7 separate regions of the Homo sapiens genome follow, and all the other regions are linked to region 1. Evidence: fine-mapped expression QTL. A gene starts in region 1. Each other region holds a variant in brackets. All regions are shown on one strand. Distances are from middle to middle.

What was found. PIP is the estimated chance that this variant, and not a neighbour inherited with it, causes the effect.
Region 2: its variant is fine-mapped to the expression of TRIM24 in whole blood (INTERVAL, PIP above 0.99).
Region 3: its variant is fine-mapped to the expression of TRIM24 in whole blood (INTERVAL, PIP above 0.99).
Region 4: its variant is fine-mapped to the expression of TRIM24 in whole blood (TOPMed, PIP above 0.99).
Region 5: its variant is fine-mapped to the expression of TRIM24 in whole blood (TOPMed, PIP above 0.99).
Region 6: its variant is fine-mapped to the expression of TRIM24 in whole blood (INTERVAL, PIP above 0.99).
Region 7: its variant is fine-mapped to the expression of TRIM24 in whole blood (TOPMed, PIP above 0.99).

What each region holds. Positions count from the first base shown.
Region 1 is chr7:138,457,752-138,461,819 of GRCh38, forward strand. TRIM24 (tripartite motif containing 24) reads left to right here and starts at 2,508. Exons shown (of 19, transcript NM_015905.3): 1 at 2,508-3,161. The coding sequence starts at 2,798. RefSeq lists enhancers at 963-1,473, 1,877-2,659 and silencers at 2,170-2,559, 2,620-2,869, 2,900-3,379.
Region 2 is chr7:138,133,566-138,137,633 of GRCh38, forward strand. No RefSeq gene overlaps it. Among named protein-coding and RNA genes, the nearest start is that of MIR4468, 12 kb to the left of the region's middle. The variant C/CT (reference allele first, on the strand shown) is at 2,365.
Region 3 is chr7:138,224,616-138,228,683 of GRCh38, forward strand. No RefSeq gene overlaps it. Among named protein-coding and RNA genes, the nearest start is that of MIR4468, 100 kb to the left of the region's middle. The variant C/G (reference allele first, on the strand shown) is at 1,994.
Region 4 is chr7:138,192,948-138,197,015 of GRCh38, forward strand. No RefSeq gene overlaps it. Among named protein-coding and RNA genes, the nearest start is that of MIR4468, 71 kb to the left of the region's middle. The variant T/C (reference allele first, on the strand shown) is at 1,687.
Region 5 is chr7:138,562,750-138,566,817 of GRCh38, forward strand. All of the region lies in intron 9 of TRIM24 (tripartite motif containing 24), which reads left to right. It overlaps LOC124901755 (a long non-coding RNA gene), which reads right to left and starts at 2,954. Exons shown (of 2, transcript XR_007060556.1): 1 at 2,639-2,954. The variant G/A (reference allele first, on the strand shown) is at 2,368.
Region 6 is chr7:138,142,449-138,146,516 of GRCh38, forward strand. No RefSeq gene overlaps it. Among named protein-coding and RNA genes, the nearest start is that of MIR4468, 21 kb to the left of the region's middle. The variant C/T (reference allele first, on the strand shown) is at 1,626.
Region 7 is chr7:138,180,777-138,184,844 of GRCh38, forward strand. No RefSeq gene overlaps it. Among named protein-coding and RNA genes, the nearest start is that of MIR4468, 59 kb to the left of the region's middle. The variant C/T (reference allele first, on the strand shown) is at 1,995.

The DNA of each region.
Region 1 (4,068 bases):
GGCCTCCCAAAGTGCTGGGATTACAGGCATGAGCCACTGCGCCCGGCCAGCATCTGATGCTTTTATTCTCCTTGCTGATGCCCTTCTCTTCCAGTTCAGACAGCTTTGATCTCCTCTCTCATAGGTGGTGGTAGTGGTGCAGTTAAGAAACAAGAAACAGCGCATCATCCAATTAGGCGGAAGCACAGGATGGATATGGGAAAGCAGTAACATCAGACAAGAAGATCAGATGGGAATAAAATTGTGGAGAGCTTTGGATGCAGTGGAGAGCCACAGAAAATTATGGGATAAGGGAGGGACATAGGATGAGAGCTGTAATTAAGGAAGAGTAATCTATTGGTAGTGTGGATCTTTGTGAAATATATTTGAACACGCTTTGTAGGGCAACAATATCCAAATAAAGAAATCATATGATTAAGAAAAACAAACAGTAAATTCATTTTCTGGACTTGAAGTTCCATATATGTGAACAAAGTACAATGTACGATTGTTTTACTCATGTGAAATTAGGAAGGCTAAAACGATGGAAGATCATTTTCTGTAAAACCATGGTGATTTGAAAAACTTTAAGCTAGTGGGTTTGATCAAATTACATGGAATTCTTTCAAAACCAGCCTATTCAATTTTACTTCTCAGTTTTCCTTCCCTACCACCATCATCTGGGGAATAAGAGGGACTTGTCTTTAGTAGGCTTGAATCCTGTATACCACCTATGTAATGAATTTTTAGCATATTAAGGGAGTTGATTTTTGAATACAAAATTCCATTCCTATTATGTGAATGTTTTCAAGGTGTAGCTTCAAAAATATACAATATGGTTTGAATTCTGGGGAAGGAGTGTTCAACTTTGGGGTGGCTTTAGGGGATAACAGATAAGTCAGAATTTTGAAGGAACTAAAACAAAGGGAACAGCGTGTACAAAGCAGGGTGGCCTTACAATTGCTGCAGCATGAAGCATGAGAGTCGCGGCGACTTCAGCTTGAGAGGCATATACGGACGAAATCGTGGAGAGATTTGTGAGTGGGTGAAGACCTGTGGGACAGACTTCCGTTTCTGGACCCACCCAGGTCAGAATCACTTGAGATGCTATCAAAATTGAATAACTGAATACGGAGGTGGCCCAAGCACCTGTTTTTCACTAAGCTTCTCAAGTTATTCTTATGCAAACTAAGGTTTAAGAGCTACTTCCATGCAAAAAAACAAACAAACAAAAAATCCCAAGCTTAAACAGGAACCAATGGGTGGGGGAGGCGGGAAGAGCTGTTGAATGTCTTGTGATTAAGTAAAAGAACCTCTCACTTGAGGCCTACGGAGGTTGTGTTTAAGGGCAAGGTCTTGAAGGAAGGCTACGTTGCCTAGCCCTCCCCCATTGCCATCCCATATAGTCCTCCAGGAAAACTGTGATTTTAGCAAAGCCTTTCATGACCCACTCCATCTTTCTCTAAAGTCCAGTACCGCTTCATTAGTATTGACAAAAAAAAAAAAAAAAGGTAAATACTTCTTAAAGTTACGTGTTACAAAATCTTGTTTCCTTCATTCCGTTTCTATTCTTCAAGTTCCTTAAAAGCTGCGCCATTTTTTGAGTGAAAAATGTGCGTAACTTCTGATATCAGCGTAGAGAGGTGAGGGAGGGAGGGAGGGAATAAAATAAGAGGGAGGGAGGAAATACAAAAGAATCCTGAAGTTATGAATTATTTGGGTAACAGTATTGAGGTTTATTTTTGCTTAATGATGCTATATTTATGCAATAAAAACATTTGTCAATCTGTATTAATTCCTGGGAAAACGAACCACTTTTAGTCACTTAAAAAGCAAATCACTGACTTTAAAAATTAATTTCACCTTTTTCATTGGGGAAACCCTTTAAAAATTTCCAACTTGCACGAGAACTTCCCCCCCTTATTCTTCATACTCATTCATTCTAGAGATGAGTAAAATTAGGTTGCAATATCCCTGCTGCCTCCAGAGTACCTCTTTCACACAGTATTTTAAAAAATTATTTCCTTGTTTGCTCTTCAGTACCTCCACTCCTTCCTCCTGTGACCCTCCGACCATATTTACTCCTCCTACAAGACCAGGTCTCCAGTAATGAAATCAGTTTTCCAAGCAGTTACTTAATTAACGGCATTGAGTAGACAAGTGAGGTCCCGCCCCCTAGGAGGAGCTAACACCGCGGACCGAATCAGGCGGATGGTCGTTAACAAATGAACCCTTAATCTTTTCAGAGGAGGAAACATACACAAAGGCCCAATCAGAAGCCGCGATTTCAGGCGTCCGGAGGGGGCGGGGCTGGGCAAGCACCTCCCACTTCCCAACCTCCCGCCGCGGCCGACGGAGCCTCGCGGGCTCCAACAGGTCCCGCCCCCTCGCCAGGCGCGGCCGCTATTGGGCGGCGCGCTCCACACCGAAGCCTCAGTTGCTGGGAGAGGGAGGGCGGGGGCGGGGGCGGGGCCTGAGGTGGGCCAGGGGGATGAAGAGAAAGGCGGGGAGGCAAGGGCGGGCTGGGCGTATTCCACGAGCGCCTCGGCGGTTGGCGAAGCGGACGGGGTGCAGCCTCCCCGGTGCGAGGAACGGTCTCCGCTGACAGATACCCTCCTTCCGGCCGCGCCACTCGGGAGGCGGATCCCGTGGGCCTGAGGAGGCTTCCCCCGCCCGGTTTGCTTTCCCTCCCTCGCTGGCGCTGCCGCGAGTCCACCGAGCGGCCTCTGAGGAGCAGCCGCAGGAGGAGGAGGAGGTCGTCGGGGGCGGCGGGCGGAGACCGCGCTCTCGCTTCCCCGGCGGCGGCAAGGGCAGGACAATGGAGGTGGCGGTGGAGAAGGCGGTGGCGGCGGCGGCAGCGGCCTCGGCTGCGGCCTCCGGGGGGCCCTCGGCGGCGCCGAGCGGGGAGAACGAGGCCGAGAGTCGGCAGGGCCCGGACTCGGAGCGCGGCGGCGAGGCGGCCCGGCTCAACCTGTTGGACACTTGCGCCGTGTGCCACCAGAACATCCAGAGCCGGGCGCCCAAGCTGCTGCCCTGCCTGCACTCTTTCTGCCAGCGCTGCCTGCCCGCGCCCCAGCGCTACCTCATGCTGCCCGCGCCCATGCTGGGCTCGGCCGAGACCCCGCCACCCGTCCCTGCCCCCGGCTCGCCGGTCAGCGGCTCGTCGCCGTTCGCCACCCAAGGTGAGAACCGGCCGCGGCCGCTGGGGAGCCCGGGGAGAGGGCCAGGAGGGGGCGGGCGCCCTTGTGCGGCGCGACCCGCTGTCATGTCGCCGCCGCCCGGGGTGCGCGGCGGGGGAGGGGCGAGCAGGAGGGTCTGTGCTGGCGACGGTGACATGGAGGGCCCGCGCTCTGCGGCGTGTCGCGCTCGGCCAGCAACTTCCCCGGGCGCTGTGGACTTGACCGCGCCGCCGCCGCCGCCGCTGCTCCGCATTCTCAACAGCCGGGCGGCCCCTGCCACTCGCACTTTTGCAGACCTCTGTCGGAGTCTCCTGCAGCCGGAATCTCGGGTTCTTTGCCGGCTGCAGCCAGTTAACTGCTACCCGCCCGCTGCCTCCACAAAGCTTTGTCCAGGTCCATATGATCCTGATCATCTCGTCTATACTCACGTTATTTGAGCTGCAGGGGAGAAGGGAGGGATGAAGATGAAGTGATGGTGACTTTCTTTGATGATTGATTGCAGATCGGATGTCATTTATTTCTTATCTTGCATGTTTGGGGCTCTTTACCTTAATGAGTTCCCAGTTCTCTTCCCTCTCCTCTGCTGGGGACAAAGGAACCAAGAGACGTTGTTTTGTTGTGTGTCTCTTTCAAAGGTTTTATTTTGAGACGGCGAAGAGAAATAATACAAAGTGATTTGGGTTTTCTGGTATTTTATAGATAAAGCTGGAAGTTACTGTTCTCTTTGTGGTGTTTATTACTGTAAAATTAGACTTTTGACAGGTGTTCCATTGCTAACTTTGACAGGTTTGAAACATTTAAAGTAAGTTTGAGTACAGTTTCGGGTAGAACACTTGGCGGTTTTTAAATTTTATTATTGCAAATATTTGAGCACCTCCTTTTTAAAAATACAGTGTAACTGGAAAAGCAT
Region 2 (4,068 bases), 320 kb before region 1:
TATTCAGGGTCTCTTGAGGTGCCATATAAATGTTATGATTTTTTTTCTATTTCCATGAAAAATGACATTGGCATTTTCATAGGAATTGCATTAAATCTATAGATCACTTTCAGTAATATAGACAAGTTTCCAATATTGATTCTTCTGATCCATAAACATGAAATACCTATTTATTTGTGTCTTCTTCAATTTTATTCATTAATTCATTATGTTTCATAGTTTTCAGTATACAGATATTTCACCTTTTTGGTTAAATTTATTTCTAATTATTTTATTCCCGTTGATGCTATTATAAATGTGACTTTTTAAAAAATTTCTTGTTCAGATAGTTTATTGCCAAAGTATAGAAACACAAGTGATTTTTATATGTAGATGCTGTATCCTAAAACTTAACTGAATTCATTTATTAATTCTAACACTTTTGGGTAGAATCTTTAGGTTGTTCTATACATAAAATCTTGTAATCAGCAAACAGAGACATTTTGACTTCTTTTCTGATTTGGATGACTTTTATTTCTTTATGTTGCCCAATTCCTTTGGCTAGGACTTCAGTACTATGTTGAAAAAAAAAGTGGTGAGAGTGAGTGTAATATTGTGATATAATAAAATATATATATACTTGGTCTCTGTCCCTGGTTCCAGGCACAAAGCTGCTAAAATCCTTGAAATCTGCAAAGCGATATGTATTTTTGTATGCTAATGAGATGGCTGATCACTGAGTACTCCTAGATAACCACAGGATAGTTGCCAGGGGTGCCAACCATGTGATTGGAGGGTTGAAACTTTCAGCCACACCCCCCACCTCTAGGGAGGGGAGAGGGGTTGAAGGCTGATTTGGTCATCAAAGGCCAATCATACCTACCTAATGAAGTCTCCATTAAAAACCTAAAGATGGCTGGGTGCAGTGGTTCATGCCTGTAATCCCAGCACTTTGGGAGGCTGAGGCAGGCAGATCACCTAAGGTCAGGAGTTTAAGACCAGCCTGGCCAACATGGTGAAACCCCATCTCTACTAAAAATACAAAAATTAGCTGGGCATTGTGGTGCGTGCCTGTAGTCCCAGCTACTTGGGAGGCTGAGGCAGCAGAATTGCTTGTACCCAAGAGGCAGAGGTTGCAGTGAGCTGAGATCACACTGCAGCACTCCAGCCTGGGCAACAGAGAAGGAACTCTGTCTAAAAACAACAACAACAATAACAACAACAACAAAAACCTAAAGAGACAGGTTTTGGAGAGCTTTCTGGTTGGTGAACACATTTACATACTGGAAGGGTAGTGTACCCCAACTCCATAGGGATGAAAGCTCCTATGCTCCGGACCCTTCCAGACTCCACCCTATGTATCTCTTCATCTGGCTGTTCATTTGTATTCTTTAAAATATCCTTTGTAATAAATAGGTAGATGTAAGTAAAGTATTTCCCTGAGTTTTGTGAGCCACTCTAGCAAATTAATAGAACCCAAGGAGGGGGTCTTGAGAACCCCAATTTAGAGCTGACCGGTCAGAAGCACAGGTCACAACCTGAGGCTTACCATTGACATCTGAAATGGGGGCAGTCTCAAGGAGCTGAGTCCTTAACCTGTGGGATCTGACTCTATCTCTAGGTAGATGGTATCAGAATTGAGTTAAGTTGTAGGACACCCAGTTGGTGTCTGCTGGAGAATGGCTTGGAAGTCTGGTGAAGAGCCCCTACACATTTTGCATTAGAAGTGTTGTGCTGAGGGGTATGTGGGATTAGGAAAAACACTTGGTGTTTCCCATTTCTTAATAGTGGACATCCTTGTCTTGTTCCCAATCTTAGATAAAAGATATTCATCTTTTCACCATTGCGTATGATGTTAGCTGTGGGCTGGTAATATATGGACTTTATTGTGCTAAGGAACATTCCTTTTATAACTAATTTGTTCAGAGTTTTAATCATTAAAGGATGCTGAATTTTGTCAAATGCTTTTTATGCATCTATTGACATGATTTTTGTCCTTCACTTTGTTAATACAATGTATAACATTTACTGATTTGCATATGTTGAGCCATCTTTGCATCCCAGGCATAAATCCAAGTTGATCATGGTGAGTGATCCTTTTAATATGCAATTGAATTTGGTTTGCAAGTCTATTGTTGAAGATTTTTGCGTCTACGTTCCTCAGGAATATTGGGCTGTAATTTTTTTTTTTTTTTTTTTTGGAGTGTTCTTGTCTGGCTTTCATGTCAGGATAATATTGGCCTCACAAATCCAGTTGGAAAGTGTTTCTTCCTCTTTAATTTTTTGAGGAGTTTGAGAAGTACTAGTACTCATGCTTCCTTAAATGTTGGTAGAATTCAGCAGTGAAGCCATCAGGTCTAAGGCTTTTTTTTCTTTTTTCTTTTT[C/CT]TTTTTTTTTTTTTTTTTTTTGAGATGGAGTTTCGCTCTTTCGCCCAGGCTGGAGTGCAGTGGTGCAAGCTCTGCTCACTCCAACCTCCGCCTTCCAGTTTCAAGCAATTCTCCTGCCTCAGCATCCCAAGTAGCTAGGATTACAGGTGCCCACCACCACACCCAGCTAATTTTCATGTTTTTAGTGGAGACAGGGTTTCACCATGTTGGTCCGGCTGGTCTCAAACTCCTGACCTCGTAATCGGCCCACCTCGGCCTCCCAAGTGCTGGGATTACAGGCATAAGCCACCACATTGGCTTATTAGTGATTTAATATTTAATCTCCTTACTGATCTGTCCGAATTTTCTATTTCTTCATGATTCAGTCTTGTCAGGTTGTATATTTCTAGGAATTTATCTGTTTATTCTAGGTTATCCAATTTGTTGTTATATAATTATTCATAGTAGTCTCCTATGATCCTTGTATTTCCTTCTTTTTTTTTTTTTTTTTTTTTTTTTTTGACAGAGTCTCACCCTATTGCCCAGGCTGGAATGCAGTGGCGCGATCTCAGCTCACTGCACCCTCTGCCTCTTAGGTTCAGATTATTCTTGTGCCTTAGCCTCCTGAGTAGCTGGGACAACAGGCGCACACGACTATGCCCAGATAATTTTTGTATTTTTAGCAGAGACGGGGTTTTGCCATGTTGGCCAGGCTGATCTCGAACTCCTGACCTTAAGTGATCCACCCACCTTGGCCTGGGCCACTGTGCCCAGCCAATCCTTTGTATTTCTGTGTTATCTGCTGTAATGGCTCCTCTTTGGTTTCTAATTTTATTTGAGTCATCTCTCTTTTGTTCTTAGGCTAGCTAAAGGTTTGTCAATTTTGTTTATGTCTTCAAAAAAGTTTTGTTGATCTTTTCTATTCTTTTCCTATTCTCTTTTTTTTTTCCTGCTCTGATCTGTATTATTTCGTTTCTTCTACTAACATTGGGCTTAGTTTGTTCTTCTTTTTTGAGTTCCTTAAGGAATAATGTTAGATTACTTATTTGAGATCCTTCTTCTTTTTTAATGTAGGTATTTATTGCTATAAACTTCCTTGTTGGAACTGTTTTTACTGCATTCCATACATTTTGTTATGTAGGGTTTCCATTTTTGTTTGTCTCAATATATTTTTTTTAATTTCTCCTTCAATTTCTTCTTTGACCCATTGGTTGTTCAGGAGTATGATGTTTAATTTCCATATATTTCTGAGTTTCCAGTTTTCCTTCTGTTATTTATTTCTAATTTCATACCACTGTTGTTGGAAAAGATAGTTGACATAGTTTCATTTTTTTTAATTTTTATAAAATATACAAAAATATACATAGATACATATAATAGATTTTTATAATAAATACATTAAAATATACATAAATAGAGTCTTGATACGTTGACCAGGCTGGTCTCAAATTCCTGGCTTCATGCGATCCTCCCATCTCAGCCTCCCAAAGTGCTAGAATTACAGACAGGAGCCACCACTCCTGACCACATTGTTTCAATTTTTGAAATTTGTTAAGACTTGTTTTGTGGCCTAATATATGATCTTAGAGAATGTTTTATGTGTGCTTCAGAAGAATGTGTATCCTGCTGCTGTTGGATGGAATATTCTGTATGTGTCTGTTAGGTCCATTTAGTCTAAAGTATAGTTCAAGTCCAATGTTTTCTTATTGATTTTCTGTCTGGAAA
Region 3 (4,068 bases), 230 kb before region 1:
AATGAATTATGCCAACAAGCTTAAATTTCCTGAGTCAGATGGTCCTTGGGTGGGCTTGCTAGAAATGTTCTTAGCATGACATTAATCACCTTTCGCCTTAGGTCCAAGTTTTCGATAATGTTCCTTAACATGGGCTAGTGGTAGCCCCGCATATTCACAGCAAAGCAGGACTCAGTACTTGATTGTATAAAAAACAAAATGATATAAAACCAGTATGAACTCATAAGGCATAGTGGAGTGAAGAAGATTTTACTAAAGACTTTACAGTGAGATTGAAGAGAGAGTTACACTGTATCTCTCACAGCAAAACTTACATCCTTCGTTTATCATGATTGTTGTCTTAGCTACATTGCTTCCCCCTTGGCCCTCCCCAATTCTTTCTCTACCTATTCTATTTTTTTTCCTAGTGCAAAGAAATATACCTTCTTCAAACTTGCATCCTCACACCTGGTAGCCCCCAACTCAAGCAATAAATGGGCATTTTACAAATGAAGATCCAAAATGAGTGATCAATTCCAAATCAATTCTTTTTGTTCTTCTTAATGTCACCACTGGTCAGAAGTAAGCCATTTTGCCTCAAGAAGAAAACAAACAAACAAACAAAAAAACACCATATGGATAAGATAATCCAGGCTTGTTAATTTCCAATCATTATTTTAGGACCACTGATACTGTTCCATGTTTTCATATCTGTTATAGCATTTACTATAAGGTAGGCAGCTATTACTATCACTATGTAACAAATTAAGTAGCTGAGCTCAAAGAGGCTGCCGTCTTGCCAGTCATAATAAAAAGCAAGGCTCAGGTCGAGACCCAGGGCTTCAGATTCCAAACTGGGAGCTGATTTCTTATAGCTGAGATCAGAGGTTATAACCCTCTGTTCTGTTAGTAAATCTATGAATTGGTGCTCAATCTAAAATGCTACTTAGAAATAATTAACTAGGGCCAGGCACGGTGGCTCATGCCTGTAATACCAGCACTTTGGGAAGCTGAGGTGGGTGGATCACGAGGTCAGGAGATCAAGACCAGCCTGGCCAACGTGGTGAAACCCCATCTCTACTAAAAAATACAAAAATTAGCTGAGTGTGGTGGTGGGCGCCTGTAATCCCAGCTACTTGGGAGGCTGAGGCAGGAGGATTGCTTGAACCCAGGAGACAGAGGTTGCAGTGAGCTGACACGGTGCCACTGCACTCCAGCCTGGGCGACAGAGTGAGACTGTCTCAAAAAAAAAAAAAAAAAAAAAAAAATTAACTATTATTCTCCTCCTCCAGGATTTCTCATTCTCAGCGCTATTGACATTTTTCTTTATTGCAGGAGGCTGCCTGTGCATTGTAGCATGTTTAGCAGCATTTTGTGCTACTTAGAATCCATTAACTTGATGCAAGTAGCAACCACACACACACCTTTCCCCAATGATAACAAAATCAGCCCCAGTTGAGAACCACTGTTCCGCTCTATGCTGAACTCCTGTGGAATTCCCATCCTCTGTGTTTCCCTCAGCCTGTGAGAACACGAGTGTAGGCCCTGAAAACCTCCTGCCTGTGGCCTCTGTTTGGTCCTCCTGGACTTCCTGTAGGCCCCTTGCCTGCAGTAACCAACATCCTCACTGTGAGCCTTTATCTGTCCTTGGAGGGTGTCCAAAACCTACTCACATCCGCTTGATTCTGTACGCTAGCTCATCCAGGCAGCCTGAGTCCATGGCTATTCAAGACCAGGAGTTAAAATTGAATTGGCTGCCCAAGAATGATTTACTGGAGGCTTCTGGAAATGTCTTCCACAACTGGATTAACTATTTTGATTAATTTGACCCGTCAGTTTGTTAGGAAGGAGAGGAATAGCCATTTAATTTATTTATTCACTTAATTTATTCAACTGAATAATTTATTTAGATGCATTCATTTATTTATTTAACTGATACTGTGACTGAGATGACTTGTTTTTTGACTAAATTGAACAGTTGAAATGATCAGATTAGTTGTGCACTGAGACTCAG[C/G]CTGAATGCAGCTACCATCTCAGTGCAAGTGATTTCATATCCTTTATGCCCCAGAGAATGTAGCTCAGTTAATAAATAATCACAATTTTTATTCAGCAGTTGTTTCTAACTATTCTTTTTTCTTTTCGTTGCAAAGAATATATGATTTTTTTTCTTAAATTTCAAAAACGGTTGTAAAAATAATGTTTGGGTACCCTTGTGCTGATATGACTGACTGTATCTTTCAGGCAAGAGAGAGCGTCATTCACTAGCACATACACATAACTCAGTACAATAAATGTGTGTCATTGTACATCAATGGTGGATTTCCTGTGTGATGGAGGGGAGAAAAAGAGAAGACAGAGCAGAGGGTTCTCTTCACACTAGATTTCTTAGGGAGCTCGTAAAAAGGATTTACTGTATTTTGATTAATCCATCCTTCATCCACCTTGAGTGTCTCCATGGCAACCGGATATTTGTTTCCCAAAGATTGGCTTTCAGACTATGGAAGGTTCATTCAGCTCCATACAAAACCCCCTGTATTGCTGAGAACCACATATTTGAAATTCAGTGTGCATAGACAACCACTCCCAAACCCTTGTCTGTGTTACTGATGCCAGTGCTACTATCATTTTATCAATGACAAGACATGATCAATTTTTGAGGCATTTTCTCAGAGTTAACACAGACATCTGTTTTGCCTCTATTCCTCAGTAACATTAAGTATTTTAAGCTTAGCTTGAAGGAAGCGAGCTAAGTAGCCATTATGGGACTGAAAAAAAGAAAAAAGAAAAAAGACACCATGTCAAATGTTGGTTAGAGTATTTCAGGGCATAGGTCTGTAGTACTGCACCAATTAGATGCTCTTGTAAATAAAAATAATATCCAAAATTAATGATCCTGGCTGGGCGCAGTGGCTCACTCCTGTAATCCCAGCATCCTGGGAGGCCAAGGCGGGCGGATTACTTGAGGTCAGGAGTTTGAGACCAGCCTGACCAACATGGTGAAACCCCAGCTCTACTAAAAATACAAAAAAAAATTAGCTGGGCCTGGTGGCGCACGCCTATAATGCCAGCTACTCAGGAGGCTGAGGCAGGGAGAATCGCTTGAACCTGGGAGGTGGAGGTTGCAGTGAGCCAAGATCATGCTGCTGCACTCCAGCCTGGGAGACAGAGCAAGAATCTGTCTCAAACAAACAACAAAAAGGAAATAAAAGAAATTAATAATCCCTTTCTTAGCCAGGCATGGTGGCGTGCACCTGTAGTCTCAGCTACTCAGGAGGCTGAGGTAGGAGCACTGTTTGAGCCCGGGAGGCAGAGGTTGCAGTGAGCTGAGATTGCACCACTGCACTCCAGCCTGGGTGACAGAGCCAGACCCTGTCTCAAAACAAACAAACAAAAATTCAGTGTGTACTAGCATGCAAAGGACACACATTTCATAGATGAGGTTGCATGATTTGCCCATTGTCTTACATGAGTTAGAAACCTGGCTAAAACGAGAGTGTGGAGATCCAAACTCCCAGCACACAGCTCTGCAGACACCACACAACAGGGCTACCATCCTCGGCTCCCAGGCCAGCCTGAACAGTGCTGCGATGACGGACTGTGTGTGAGTCCTCCTCTCTCTGAGAAGAATTCATTCCTTCCTGCCTTTCCCAAACTCTCTGCTCTTCAATATGGAAAGATGGCATGGATCGATGGATGGATGGATGGATGGATGGATGGATGGATGGATGGATGGATGGACGGATGGATGGATGGATGGACGGATGGATGGATGGATGGAATAAGCTCTGGAAAATAACATCAATTACTTTTTGTTTTGTTTTGTTTTAACCACATATCCCCAAAAGGTATTATCTGGGGGCAATTTCACTTTATTCTTGTATAAATACCTTATATTCTTCGGTATTCTTTTCTTTTTCATGACCACAAATTACATTTATAATCAGCAAAAACAACAAAAAAGATTTCCATTTTGGAAAAAAACAAAAACCAAAAAAGTAGTCTCCAAAATCCAAAATAGACACCAAAATAAATCTATTTCTGATGTAAGAAAACAAAACACAAAACAAAAAACGCATGACCATTTATGCA
Region 4 (4,068 bases), 260 kb before region 1:
AGGGGCCTGGCTATGTTGCCCAGGCTAGAGTGCAGTGGCTATTCACAGACGTGATCATGGCACACTGCAGCTGCAAACTCCTAAGCTCAAACTATCCTTGTGTGCTTCTTAATCTTCCACTGCACCAAAGAATTGTTCTGTGCTGCCATCTTCAAACTAATAGGATCACCATTCTCTTTCCCTGGGCTTTTCCTGGGGCTGCGTGAATGCCAGTATCCTCAGCTGTCAATTCACAAAGGAGAGACCACGTCCACACCCAAGGAGCACATGAGCTGCACAATGACAAGCATTTAAAAATTCTAATATGCAAGGCCGGGCACAGTAGCTCACACCTATAATTCCAGTACTTTGCGAGGCCGAGGCAGGCTGATCACTTGAGGTCAGGAGTTCAAGACCAGCCTGGCCAACATGGTGAAACCCCATCTCTACTAAAAATACAAAACTTAGCCAGACATGGTGGCGAGCGCCTATAGTCACAGCTACCTGGGAGGCTGAAGCAGGAGAATTGCTTGAACCTGGGAGGCGGAGGTTGCAGTAAGCCAAAATCGCACCACTGCACTCCAGACTGGGTGACAGAATGAGACTCCCTTAAAAAAAAAAAAAAATTAACGTTCAAAAGAACTGATTAGGATACCTTTAGAATAAGGTTGAAAGGGATAGAAATTGCTGCTAGTTATCTTATCTCAATCTTAGAATGTTTAAACCGGAAGGGGACTTAAGAGATGAAGATACTGAGGTCCAGGGACACACCAGGGTCACCCTGAGTAAGCACACAGGTCTCCAACCTACTCGTTCACCACTCTCCACTACACTTCCCTCTTTCTCTCATCGACTGTTATGAATCTTAATCCTTTTTCTCTTTTATGTTCGAGGTTTTAAAGGAAGAAAATTAAATTTTTTTCTACTTGTTTAATTCTGTGTCAAAAACCCACCAACATCATGCTAAGCTCTTCATATTTAACTACTAGAGTGAAAAATAAATATGTAAATAGCAGAGATCCATGTAGTGACCCAGGGACATATTCCCTGAGAAAATTATGTGCATCTGCACCAGGATATTTATACAGGAACTGTTTTACCAGGTGGTCAGATGGTGCCACGGGATAAAATATGACATGAGTGTGGCCAAGGTCAAGAAGCAGGTAAGTGCTGCCCAGGGAAGAGAAGACCAGAGCATGAGTCAAGGTCACTGAGAACAGACAACATGCACACCAGGGTCAAGCATCTATTTACAGCAAGACGAGTGAGAACACAAAATCCAGTCCCTTGCAAGATATCGGTCCCCACAACCAGCAGATACACTTCATATCCAATCCAGGCAGCATGGCCACACACAGCCCTTTTTGGGCTGTAGTATGCTGGGCCCAGACCCTTGCCCCATGAGGTCTGAAATACAAAAAGCTGGAGGCATGCCTGACACATGCATGGCTAAGTAGTCTGTTTTTTATTTGTTTTGTTTGTTTGTTTGTTTTTGAGATGGAGTTTTGTTCCTGTCGCCCAGGCTGGAGTGCAATGGCATGATCTTGGCTCACTGCAACCTCTGCCTCCCAGGTTCGAGCAATTCTCCTGACTCTGCTTCCTGAGTAGCTGGGATTACAGGCACCCACCACCATGCCCAGCTAATTTTTGTATTTTTAGTAGAGATAGGGTTTCACCATGTCGGCCAGGCTGGTCTCCAACTCCTGA[T/C]CTCAGGTGATCCACCCTCCTCTGCCTCCGGAAGTGCTGGGATTACAGAGATGAGCCACCACGCCCAGCCTGTTAAGCAGTTTTGAGAAAGGTTTACTTGTGCTCAGTAAAGAGGGAACAGGTACAGTCCGGTGCGCTCTGAGCTCTTGCATGCAATTTGCTTAGTGAGCTGGTCAGCACCTCCTGTACCAAGCACAGCGTTCTTCTTCTTCTTGGGAACACTGGCTGCCTTTGGACCTTTCTCTCACAAAAACATTTGACATCGTACATGTATCCTGATGGTCTTATATACTCAACATTGTTTGCAATAGCCCGTGCAGGAAAAACATTGGAATGGATAAATTGTGAGATGTTCACACAATGAAATACACACAGCAATAAAAGTAAACAGACTAGAGATACGCACGATAATATAAATGAATCTTAAAGTTAATATCATGCAAAAATGCAAGACACAAAAGCATACATGCTAATTCCATTTATATGAAGTTCAAAAATAAGCAAAACTAAACTATTGTTTAGGAATACATACATAATTGGCAAAACACCAAAGAATGGCAAGTGACCAAAAGAAGTGACCAACATTCATAAAAAGCAGAATTGTGGTTCCTCCATGGAAAAGGAGGAGTTTGAGCCAGATGTTGTTTCAAAACACAGGGATATTATGAAATTTCCTGTCTTAATCTAGCTGATAATCAGACAAGTGTTTGCCTTATAAATATTTACTGTACTGAACATTTACTGTGGAGCCTACGAGAATGCACCACCCAGCCCTCCTATTACAAGGAGTATTACTTGACTGAAGGCGTAGATGCATTCAGAACCCCACTGCAGCATTGTGGTAAGGCCAACCCCACCCACAACAATAGGATTGGCCCTGAGGCTGCTCCACTCATGGCTGAGATTGACAGGTAGAGCAGGGCAGAACAGATCCTAGGAGATACAGGAGGCTTGCAACCACAAACTTCAGCTGAGGGGCTCCCCAATAGCTTTGCCAAACCTTCCCTAGACTTCAAGTCAATTTAGGACAAATCTATCTCTCTCTCTTTCACCCTGGGTCAGACTTGCAGGGGAACAATTGCTGTCCTAGCCTTTCCCCAAAGCCTCTCCGATTCCCTCTCTATTTACTTTCCCAAAGGTATTTCTCTTTATAAAATCATTGCACATTTAATCCCTTCTTGGCCTCTGCTTCTCGAAGGACCCCAAGCTAGCAAAATTATGTTTTATTCCCTTTTTTTTTTCTTTGAGATGGAATTTTGCTCTTGTTGCCTAGGCTGGAGTGCAATGGCATGATCTTGGCTCACTACAACCTCCACCTCCCTGGGTTCAAGAGATTCTCCTGCCTCAGCCTCCCAAGTAGCTGGTACAGGCGTTCACCACCACACCCGGCTAATTTTTTGTGTTTTTAGTAGAGACGGGGTTTCACCATGTTGATCAGGCTGGTCTCGAACTCCTGACCTCAGGTGATCCACCCAACTCGGCCTCCCAGAGTGCTGGGATTACAGGCGTGAGCCACAGCGCTCAGCCGTTTTATTCCCTTTTCTACATATGTATTCCATTCCTCAGTGTTAAAAATGTTTAAAACGGTCATGCTGGCTGGGCATGGAGGATAACACCTGTAATCCCAGCACTTTGAGAGGCCAAGGTGGGTGGATGACCAGGTCAGGAGTTGGAGACTAGCCTGGCCAACATGGTGAAACCCCATCTCTACTAAAAATACAAAAATTAGCTGGGCGTGGTGGTGCACACCTGTAATCCCAGCTACTTGGGAGGCTGAGGCAGGAGAATTGTTTGAATTCAGGAGGTGGAGGTTGCAGTGAGATCGCACCACTGCACTCCAGCCTGGGCGACAGAGCAAGATTCTGTCAAGAAGAAGGAGAAGGAGAAGGAGAAGCAGAAGCAGAAGCAGAAGCAGAAGCAGAAGCAGAAGCAGAAGCAGAAGCAGAAGCAGAAGCAGAAGCAGCAGAAGAAGAAACAGTCATGCCAATCTGTATAGCAAAAAAGTGAGGGGGAGTTAAAAATCTGGTGGTGTATCTATGGGGGTTGATGGTGTTGCTGAAATGCCCCATAATGGTTAATATTGTGTCAACTTGATTGGATTGAAGGACGCAAAGTACTGCTCCTGGGTGTGTCTGTGAGGGTGTTGCCAAAGGAGATTAACATTTGAGTCGGTTGTCTGGGAAAGGCAGACTCACCCTCAATCTGGGCGAGCACAATCTAATCAGCTGCCAGTGTGGCCAGAATAAAAGCAGGCAGAAGAATGTGGAAAGACTAGACTGGTTTAGCCTCCCAGTCTACATCTTTCTCCCATGCTGGATGCTTCCTGCCCTTAAACATCAGACTCCAAGTTCTTCAGCTTTAGGACTTGCACTGGCTTCCTTG
Region 5 (4,068 bases), 100 kb after region 1:
ATTCCTGGTTTGTGAGACAGTTCTGGTGGCTTTTTTGTGTATAGCCTCCATTCCTCAGTTTGCAGGACGGTAAGGGTTAACACCATGGCCTTTGGGTCAGTCAGGTTTAGAGTCATATCCCCTTGTAGCCCAAAAGCAATCTGTGCTTGCAGTTTTCAGAGTAGGTCTCTCCCCAGCAGGGGAACTGGGCAATTTGGGAGGTACAGGAATTCATGTTGGACCTCTTGTCCTCCTATAACGAACCTCCTTGGCCAACAAAGTGGCCTCTTCTCTGAGACCCTGGTGACCCCTACAATAGTTGTATAGTTTTTGGATAGTGGTCCTATGGATCGGGTTACTACCAGCTATTCAGCCCCATTGTCCACCATAAAGTCCATTAGCTGGCCCCCCACTTCTAATGTGACCATGGGCTCCTGGGGGCCTAAGGAGAAGGAGCCTGGTCTGTCCTTGTCCTTATATTCTTCAGTCCCTGCCACCCCGATCAGGTCGGTATCTGGTTCCTTCAGGGTGCAGCAGCCTTTGACTGGTGGCATTTTTGTTTCATAGCCTCCGCCATTTTCTTCACTGCCCTCTGGACACTGATTTTTTCCAGTGTCCCTTTTAGCATCATGCACATTGGTGCTTATCTAACCTCAGCCGGCTTTTGAGCCTCTGTCTGGTTTGGCCCCATCTCCGTCTGTGCCCGTGTCCACATCCGCACCCTCTTGCAATGCTAGTTTCCCTTACCGTAAGGGTCACTGCTAACATATTGGCCTTTTTCCTAAGCCTCCGATCTGCTTCCTTTTTTGCCTCTTGGTCACGGTTAATATACATCTTGGTGGCCACTCCTATAAGTTGGGTGGCATTCATGCCTGCGAAATTTTTTAGCTTTTGCATCTTCCACCTGATGTCACCCTGGGCTTGTCCTGCAAATGCCGTGTTCACTGTGCACTGATTTTCAGAGGCCTCAGGGTCAAACGGAGTGTAAAGCTGGAATGCCTCACAGAGTCTCTCATAAAACTGGCTAGGGCTCTCATCAGCTCCTTGAAGAACTTCTGAGATATTTCCTATATTGATTGCCTTTTTCCTGCCTTCCTTTAGCCCTTGCAAGAGTGCTTCTCGGTACCTCTGTAGGTACTGTAATTGGACTGCATGATTTGAATCCCAGTGGGGGTCTGCTTCTGGAAACTGGCCCTGAGTGTATGCCTGAACGTTAAGTGTGCCTTCAGGTGCACTGGCTTCTAGGCAGCAGAGAGCTGCCTGGATTACCCTCCAGCACTCCTCAGTGTTAAACAGTGTCAAGAGGAGCTGCCTACAGTCTGGCCACGTAGGATTGTGTGTCTGGAAGATGGATTGCATTAAATCTATGAGGGCCTGGGTCTTCTCCATGTAGGAGGGGGTATGGTGTTTCCAGTTTAGGAGATCAGTGGTTGTAAAAGGCTGGTAGATGAAGTTCCGTTGCCCCCCTTGGACTTGACCCTGTTCATCATAATAGATGGGTCCCCGTGTCTCCCTAAGAGGCATTTGCATAGCCCAAGCATGACCAGATTGGAGGCAGCCCACTTGATCATCTTATCTTTCTTCCCTGACCTCCTGGGGCTCCGATCTTTCCTTTTGGGGTGAGTCTTGGAGCATGTTACCATCTGAATCTGACTCCTTGGGGGCCGTTGGCCTCAGTAAATGGGGGTAGATTGGAATATATGGAAGAGGAATTTCTATCTCCTCTGGCAGTTCCTGCAAAACTGGTTTCTCTTGCCCTTCCCATGACTTTTTCTTTGTCTCCGTATTTGCCAGCAAAGCTGATTTTACTTTCACTTTAGGCTCGGTCTGAGCCACAAGCATTTTGCAGTAAGCTGCCAGGCAGGGCTGCAACCATGCAGGTCAAGTTTGAACTACATTTAGCCATGAGTCAATATAAGGGAATTGGTCTGGGTGCCCTGGCTGTCCTTCGACCCCAATCACCACCTTAAATACATGGCCAATTGTTTCCCTATCTGTGGTTCCTTTGGCTGGCCATCCGACACTAAAAGAGGGCCATTCTATTTCACAGAGTTCTCAACCTCTGAGGGGTCAACTTCATCCCGTAATCCCCTGCATAACCTTTCTTAAAATTCTTTAACATACATTGTAATGGGGTGGGTTTTGACGACTTCCCTCTCATTTCCTCCCAGTTACAGCGCAACACACTCACTCTCACTTTCACTTCGGACCGATTAGACCGTCCCCCTCGCAGGAGTATTTCAGATGCCACTTAGCATTGGAGGCTCTGTTTTGACCCCCACAATTACTAAATTGTGGGGCACCTCCCTAAGCCATATGTGGAACACTGTTAGTCCCGGTCAGTCCCATGGTTCTCTCAGAGTGTATGGTCTACGCTAAGAGAACTGC[G/A]GCCCCCACACATCACTCCCCGCATTGGTTCCTCCTGGAACCGCCTCTTTCACATGCACTCACACACTTCCCCGCTCCCAGTTCCTCTTTCTCAACTGACTCTGCAAGCCACTCTCATGTCCTGGGTTGGTTGGGGTGTGAGCTTGTGAGCTTCCCTGACTTTGCAAGCCACTCTCACGTCCTGTGTTTGACCACTAGTTACACCCCGGGAGGTGATCAGGCTCCCCTTCCATTCTTATGGGACAGGTCCTGCCTCGGGCTCAAACCTTACCACAATCCTGTAGTGCACTGTTCCTGGAATCATCCTGTTCCTGCTTAGGTTCCATTGTGCTGTCAGGTAGGGTCAAGGGAGAGCTGATCACCCCTCTGGGTTGAAGTTCTCCCAGTGGCGCCTGGGGTCACAGGTCTCTCCCGGCCTGGGGCTCCAGTCTCACAGGCGAAGAGACAGTAAACCTTTCGTCTCCAATCCCGGGCGAGCCCCCAGAAAATGTTTCAGGAATCAGAGGACTGGAGAGACCAATAGGTAGAAGAGGAGGATTTTATTTAAGTGGCCACTGGCCCAACGGATTCACATCCAAAGGCTAGGCCCTGAACAAAGACAGGGCTTGACTTTTATACACACTTCTGAAAGGGGGTTGGCTAGTTTAAATGGCGTGGTGGGAATCTAATGGCATGAAATTCATGGTGTAGGCAAGCAGGCTTACAGAAGCAGAACAAAGGCAGTTAATCAGTGACAGGTTTCATAATCCTTAGCATAGCTTGTGACCTTGCAGCTGCATTGAAGGAAAAACAGGAACTTACAAAACTTGGAAATTGAGTAATGGTAAGGGGGATGAGGAGATAGTAAAGGAATTTGATTTGCTTAAGCTTGCTCTGAGGGGGTGTTGGGAGAGTCTCTGGAGCTCCTTCCTTTGGGCTCTGGCTTTCCAGATAGTTTTATCAAAGCTTTGCCAGGGCCCTGCATATTGCTGGCCTTGGAGTGAGTCAGCTAAGTACAGGGAAACTTGTTTTTCTCTTTTTTATTTCTGCTTCAGCCTCATTTGTGATTCCTTCACCCAGCCTTCCTGTAATCAACCAGGGTTGTTCTTGGAGACTTTGCTTTGAAAATATGTTTTCTGGCCAGGCACAGTGGCTCAAGCCTGTAATCCCAGGACTTTGGGAGGCTGAGGTGGGCTGATCACTTGAGGTCAGGAGTTCGAAACCAGCCTGACCAACATGGCAAAACCCCATCTCTACTAAAAATACAAAAATTAGCCAGGTGTGGTGGGGCATTCCTGTAATTCCAGCCACTTGGGAGGCTGAGGCAGGAGAATCACTTGAACCCAGGAGGCAGAGGTTGCAGTGAGCCAAGATCGGAACAAGACTCCATCTCAAAAAACAAACAAACAAACAAACAAAAAACAGAAAATGTTTTCTTCTATGGAGACTCATCCTCTAAGTTGTAATTACTCAGTATCTTAACAGCCAGCTAAGCACCCGAACATGTTTTGGTAATGATATGGCAGACTAGATTTGGATTAAAGCCTTGGTGTGCTGCTTGGTGTTAGCTGTGTGACTTTTTTCAAATTATGTTTTCAAACTTTTAGTTTCCTAATTTGCAAAACAAAGGTAATAATACCTACTTCATAAGACTCAATAACATAATAATATGTAAAATGCCTGCCAGGGCTCAATAAGATCTAAAACTTACTAAGTGTTACT
Region 6 (4,068 bases), 320 kb before region 1:
CGGCCTCCCAAAGTGCTGGGATTACAGGCGTGAGCCACTGCGCCTGGCCAGATTTTTAACTGTGGTTAATTTTGTCCCACGCTCCCTCAGGGGACGTTTGGCAATGTCTACACATATTTTTGGTTGTCACAACTAGGGTGGGGGACACAGAGGTGGCATTAGCATCTAATAGGTAGAGGATAGGGATACTGTTAAACATCCTACAATGCACAGGATAACTTCCCACAGCAAATAATTATCTGGCCTCAAATGTCAATAGAACTGGGGCTGAGGAAGCCTGTTAACACAAGACTCTTTCTTGATAGATGCTAAAGGGTACTGGTTCCTAATGCCATGCTTTCAGCTCATTGCATACAACTGAAAACTAATCCTTTTAGGTTTATTTCTATAGCACTTAAAGTAAACAGCCCATCCATTATAATTCACCTATTTTTATGTATTTTATCTGTTCTCAGATTATTAAACTGATAATGGATTTCATGCTTTCAATGTTTGCATTTGAAGCACATGGACAAATGAGTCCCAGTGAAAATGAGTTCATGCAGGAAACAGAAATTACAAATTATAAATTATGTCTTCAGTATAAGCCAAGAGAAAATTGCTCTGATAAATAACAGACTGCTATTAAGATGGAAGCAATAAGACATCAGATTAAGCTGGTTATCTACTTTCCTTCCTGTTCCCAATTTTTAAAAATAACTATGCAGAAAGTCAATTTAAAGACCAAATTCATATCACCTTTAGAATAAAGAAAGCATACTATCGGTGAACTTAAAACTCTCAAAAACAGAAAGCACAAGAGATTGGATTGACAACAAAATAAGAGTAAACTGCAATCCAAAGCACTTGCAGTGAACAGCTTCTGCAAAGACAAGAGCAATTTTAGACATGTTCCAACCTTGGAGTCAATTAAAAATTTAAAAAGCAGAAGCTTTTAGGGAATCAGCAGATAATTCATTAAAGACCTGCACTTCAAAAAGTTACACCAATGACCTCGCACTCCACCAGCGCTATTCCTTGCTATACACACAGAGTTCCAAGGATCTACTAATAGCCACATTTGTTCTTCTGGTTGGAATCCACTTCTTTCTAATCAAAGTGAATACTGTACCTGAAAAGGGCAGGTAACACAAGTATTGAGACTAGAGAGAGAAGCAAAACACTGCCTGGGGTGACTTCAAAGAACCACACAAGCCAGGCTCAATGGCGCACACCTATAATCCCAGCGCTTTGGAAGGCCGAGGCAGGAGGATCTCTTGAGCAGAGGAGTTTGAGGCTTCAGGGAGCTACGATCATTGCTGCACTTCCAGCCTGGGTGACAGAGTCAGACTCTGTCTCCAGTAAATAAAAAAACAAACAAACAAACAAACAAATAAATAAATAAGAATCACACAAAAGGCAGGAGATAAAAAGGAAAGAGTGAAGCTGATTCTGGCATTTACTTCCAGGATGAAGCTGGGGATGGGGGAGAGATGAGACAATGGAAGGAGGAAACAGGAAGGCATATCAGTATTAAAAGGATCTCTTGGGTTATGTAAGGTCAGATACACTATGATTGTGTTATGTATAAATATTACCTCCTAACATCTCCCTGAGGAAGGCAAAGAAGCCAATGACATGAACAG[C/T]CCAACAATTGTCCTGGAAACCCTAAAACTAGTTATCTCCTCTTGCTAAGTCCACCTGCCTTCTGGGAAAGGAGACTCTGAAAGGAAATGTTAAACACCAGAGTCAACTGTGGAAAGCTGAGAAACAATTGCAGCACATAGATTACACCAGCCAACTGCAAAGAAGATCACAACAGAGTTTTGTCCAAAATGGCCTTGGGCAACTAAGAGTTCAAAAGGCAGAACAGAAAATAACAAGGCTCCAAATACACTGATCATGGCCAGGCGCAGTGGCTCATGCCTGTAATCCCAGCACTCTGGGAGGTGGATGGGGGTGTGGATCACCTGAGGTCAGGAGTTCAAGACCAGCCTGGCCAACATGGTGAAACCCCGTCTCTACTAAAAATACAAAAATTAGCCAGGTGTGGTGGTGCATGCCCGTAATCCTAGCTACTTGGGAGGCTGAGGCAGGAGAATCACTTGAACCTGGGAGGCAGAGGTTGCAGTGAGCCAAGAACACACCACTGTACCCCAGCCTGGGCAACAAAGCAAGACTCCATTTCAAAAAAAAATCACTGATCACAACCAAAAAATTCTAGGATCATTCTTCACAGATGTGTGGCATGAACGGATGACCCTTATGCACAGGTGTCATCAGTCAAAGCTGTACCTGATAATTAGCACCATCAATTTCCACCTCTATTTCTATGCTCTTTGAACTGGAGACTGGTGTTAGACACCTTTGGAATGCCTCACACATACATCCTTTGGAGTAAGCTCCTGAAGACAGATTTTACGTAATGTAAAATAATGGCCCCTTGTTGGCTCATGGTGACCTTGCATATATCCATAGACCACATGAGCCAAGTTTGAACTGCAGCTAATCTGAGCCTCGGCCAAACATCCTGCATCCTTCTGAACCTTGAGCACATGGGAGGCTTTTGAGGAGATGCTTGGGGCCATTCTCACTCACTTTTCTATCTGTCAAGGAGGCTGTAATGAGGCAATTCCTCATCTCCTTCCAGTGTCTCATGAGGTTTGAGTCTTTCTGTTACCTAATGGGGTAACAGCTGCGGAGCTGTAACATAGCTAAGCAGTAGCATAGCAGTAGCTACCCCAGCAACAGAGCATACCATTATTCACATTGCAATCATCTGGGCCGTTTTCTTTTAGTGTTGCCCTACCCAAGGGAGTAAACACAGGAGACTGTCTTATTATAAGAGACATGGAAATTGAAAAACAGAGAGAAACAGAGATTATGCTGCTATATTTGGAAGGAAATAATAAAATTACTTAGATTTTAATAATGATTCCCCCAAGGGTCCTAGTGGTTCATAATTATGTCTTTTTTTCTTTTTATTTTTTTGGAGATAGAGTCTCAGTCTGTCTCCCAGGCTGGAGTGCAGTGGCGAGATCTCGGCTCCTTGCAATCTCTGCCTTCCGGGTTCAAGCGATTGTCCTGCCTCAGCCTCCCGAGTAGCTGGAATTACAGGCGCCCACCACCAGGCCCAGCTAATTTTTGTATTTTTAGTAGAGACGAGGTTTCGCCATGTTGGCCAGGCTGGTCTTGAACTCAGGTGAATCCGCCCGCGTCAGTCTTCCGAAGTGCTGGCATTACAGGTGTGAGCCACCGCGCCGGCCATCTTTGTTTCTTTAATTCAGTGGTCCGCAACCTTTTTGGCACCAGGGACTGGTTTATTAGAAGACAATGTTTCCATGCACGGGGGTGAAGCGGGGGCTGGTGGAGGGGGGCGTGGAGGATGGTTTCGGGATGATTCAAGCACATTACATTGATTGTGCACTTTATCTCTATTATTACATTGTACTATATAATTAAATAATTACACAACTCACCATAATGTAGAATCAGTGGGAGCCCTGAGCTTGTGTTCCTGCAACTAGACAGTTTCATCCGGGGGGGGGTGATGGTGAGAGGTGACAGCGTGCTGGCAGTCCTCACAGCCCTTGCTCGCTCTAGGCGCCTCCTCTGCCTGGGCTCCCACTTCGGTGGCACTCGAGGAGGCCCTTCAGCCCGCCGCTGCACTGTGGGAGCCCCTTTCCGGGCTGGCCAAGGCCGGAGCCGGCTCCCTCAGCTTGCTGGGAGGTGTGGAGGGAGAGGCGCGGGCGGGAACTGGGGCTGCGCGCGGTGCTTGCGGGCCAGCGCGAGTTCCGGGTGGGCGTGGGCTGGGCGGACCCCTCACTCGGAGCGGCCAGCTGGCCCCACCAGCCCCGGGCAGTGAGGGGCTTAGCACCTGGGCCAGCAGCTGCTGTGCTCAATTTCTCGCTGGGCCTTAGCTGCCTTCCCGCGGGGCAGGGCTCGGGACCTGCAGCCCGCCCTGCCTGAGCCTCCCCCCAACTCTGTGGGCTCCTGTGCTGCCTGAGCCTCCCCGGCGAGCGCCACCCCCTGCTCCACGGTGCCCAGTGCCATCGACCACCCAAGGGCTGAGGAGTGTGGGCGCACAGC
Region 7 (4,068 bases), 280 kb before region 1:
ATGGAAAAAGAGACAATGCCGGTGAAAAATGACTTTAAAAACATAATTGAGGGTAGCTGTAGTGGCTTACGCCTGTTATCCCAACTAATCAGCAAGGTGAGATGGGAGGATGGCCTGAGGCTGAGAGTTTGAAGCTACAGTGAGTTATGATCATGTCACTGGACTCCAACCTGGACAACCGAGTAAGGCTCATCTCTAAAACAATAAAAATTAAATAAGAAATTAAAACCGTAATTGATATCCTCAAAGAGAAAAGAGAAGATATTGAATCTATGAAATGGGATGCTGAGGTAACCCCAAGGATGAGATTATCAAATCAAACTCATAAGAATCAGAGATCTTAGCCAGTATCAAAATTTACTAATTAGGCCAGGTGCAGTGGCTCATGCCTGTAATCCCAGGACTTTAGGAGGCCCAGGCAGGAGGATCACTTGAGCCCAGGAGTTCAAGACCAGTCTGGGCAATATAGTGAAATTTCATCTCTACAAAAAATAAAAATAAATTGGCCAGGTGTGGTGGCATGTGCCTATGGTCCCAGCTACTCAGAAGGCTGAGATGGGAGGGTCACTTGAGCCAGGGAGGTCGAGGCTGTAATGGGCCATGTTTGTGCCATACACTCAAGCCTGGGCAACAGATCTAGACTCTGTCTCAAAACAAATAAACCAACAGAAAACCTAATTATTCAAAGGATACAGGTGATCATGACATGTAGGCAAAACCTGGAAAAGTCTGAAATGACCACTGCGGATCCCCAGTCCTTCCTTGCCACTTTATAACATTCTGTAGTCCAGAGTTAACATGTAAGGTTCTAAGTAGTATATATAAGACATCCATTACACAAATAGAGCTATTTTATTGACAAAAATCTTCTTTTTATACTCTGACAATTACATAGCAGACACTGACATTTTCGAGTGGGCCATGCCTCCATGTATGCATGGATTCCAGAATTGCACAGCAAGAGCAACCTAGCCAGACCCGGTACATCCTGGTAAAATCATTCCAGAAATGAGACCTCTTTCTGCTTGTAGATGCTATCCCATTAGCTAGTTTGCAAGATTTGACTTGGTCCTTTCTATTTTTTTTTTTTTTTCCTGGCATTTCCAAGTCAAGTCGAGTAAGTTACAAACCAGCTGCTAATCCTTTTCTTCCCAGAAGGTATAAAAAGAAACATTCAGAAAGCTCTTAGAAATTAAAAATATGGAAGTGGAAGTAAATACTTCAATAGAAAGGTTGAAACATAATGCCATGGAAATCTCCCATACTGTAGAGCAAAAGGCAAAGATATGAACACAGAACAAATAACAAATATTAAAAGATCAATTTAGGATTTAAGCCAAGTAATAGGAATTCCAGAGAAAGGAAACTAAGTTTTAACATGAGAAAGTGATGCTAGACATAACAGCAACAATTGTTTCCAACTAAGGAAAGCCAATTTCCAGATCAAAAGGAGTCCCCTAGAAACAAGACTACAAATGAGAGGGAAACTACACCAAGGCTCATTGCAATGACGTTTCAGAATACCAGAGACAAAAAGAAGACCCTTAGAACTTGCAGAGAAGGGTAAAAAAAACACATCGAGTACAAAGAATCAGGAATCAGGCTGGCATCAGATTTCAGTGGGAACACTGAAATCTAGAAACCGATGAAGCAATGACTTCAGAATTCATAGCAGAAATCATTTGCAGCCTACTGACAAAAAAAAATATTAATCCAATGTGAGGACAGAATACAAACTTTTTTCTTTACACGCCAAATCTCTATAAGCACTGGAACACAGTCTCTACCCAAACAAGGGAGAATACTAAGGAAAATAAGACATAGGATTTAATAAATAGAGAGTCTAGCACAGAGGAGAGACAATGGAAATTCTGAAAATGGCGGTTAGGAGACCTTTCTCCGTCACCGAGGCTGGAGTCTGGAATGCAATGGTGTGATCATAGCTCACTGCAGCCTCAAACTCCTGGGATCAAGCAATCTTCCCACCTCAGCCT[C/T]CTGAGTAGCTAGGATTACAGGCACACACCACAAAGCTAAATTTTATATTTTTTTTGTAGAGACATGGACTCACTATGTTGTTCAGACTGTACTTGAACTCCTGGCCTCAAGCGATCCTCCCGCCTTGGACTCCCAAAGCACTAGGATTACAGGTATGAGACACTGTACCTGGGCAGACTCTTTAAAACAACAACTATAAAACAAGACTAGAAGAGAATTCACCCAGAATGGAGAGGGAGGAAGGAGGACATGAAATCCAGAACAAATATCAGCAGTGTCTCAAACTGGATGGAGGGATGGATGGATGGATGGATGGGTATGGAGAGAGAGAGAGAGAGAAGAGTAATTGCCATTTATCAACTTTTATTTTAACAGATTCTTCATTTGCATACGAATGCATTATGTATGAATTACAATAGGCAGTACATTCATATAGTTTTTAGAAACATAAAATATCTGTTTTCATCCATGTCTCCGTCCATCCTGACCACCATCTTCCACACACACATCATTATTTACTATTTTCTTTGTTGTTTGTTTGTTTGTTTTTTGAGCCGGAGTCTCGCTCTGTCACCCAGACTGGAGTGCAGTGGCGCAATCTCGGCTCACTGCAAGCTCCGCCTCCCGGGTTTACGCCATTCTCCGGCCTCAGCCACCTAAGTAGCTGGGACTACAGGCGCCAGCACCACGCCTGGCTAATTTTTTGTATTTTTAGTGGAGACAGGGTTTCACTGTGTTAGCCAGGATGGTCTCGATCTCCTGACCTCATGATCCACCCACCTCGGCCTCCCAAAGTGCTGGGATTACAGGCGTGAGCCACCGCGCCCGGCCTACTATTTTCTTTTTAATGTTCCTTAATGTGACAAATAATTTGATATACTCCTGACGTTATATATGTATATCTCAAGGATAAATGCTCATCAGTAGGAGTTTCAGGTCACAGAATAAATGCATTTGTAATTTGGGGGATATTGCCAAATTGCCCTACATAGAGATTCTTTATAACACGTGCAATCACAACAGCAGTGTATGAAAGAGCCTGTTTCTCTGCAGCTTTGCCAAGAATGCATTGTAAAACTTTCAGATTATGCTAATCTGAGAAGTGAAAAATGGTATATTCAGTTTAATTTGCATTCATCTAATTATGAATTGGATTTAACGTCTTTTCATAAATGTTTTAACATTTGTATTTCTTTTTTGTGAAATGTCTTTTCATGTCCTCCACTCTTATTCTATCAGGTCACTTTTTCTCACCAATTTCTCTGTGTGTGTGTGTGTGTGTGTGTATGTGTGTGTGCGTGTATGTGTGTGTGCGCGAATGTATTGAGAAAAGATCTATACTTCTGACAATGAGTTTGGAAACTAAATAATAGTATTGAGACTAGAGAAAGAAGACAAAGGTATTATGGTAAAAAGAGCCAAAGCGTCTTTTTCCACAATAGGGGGATGACAATAAATAATAGCTAAAACTGAAGTCAAGAAATAGCATTAGACAAACTCAGTGGCTCATGCCTGTAATCCCAGCGCTTCAGGAGACTGAGGCGGAAGGATCACTTGGGAACTGAAGTTCAAGCCTAGCTTGGGCAACGTAGTGAGATTCCATCTCCACAAAAAATTTAAAAATTTAAAATAGCTGAGTGGTGACACATGCCTGTAGTCCCAGCTACTAGGGAGGCTGAGACAAGAAGGTCACTTGAACTTAACAGTTTAAGGCTGCAGTGAGCCATGATCATGCCACTGCACTCCAGCATAGGCAAAAGAGTGAGACCTTGTCTCAAAAATATGTATTTTTTTAAAAAATTAGGCTGGGCATGGTGGGGGGACCTCACACCTGTAATCCCAGCACTGACGGGCGGATCACAAGGTCAGGATATCAAGACCATCCTGGCTAACACGGTGAAACCCTGTCTCTACTAAAAATACAAAAAATTAGCCAGGATGGTGGTGGGCACCTGTAGTCCCAGCTACTCAGGAGGCGGAGGCAGGAGAATGGCGTGAACCCAGGAGGCAGAGCTTGCAGTGAGCCGAGATCGCGCCACTGCACACTCCAGCCTGGGCAAGAGAGCAAGACTC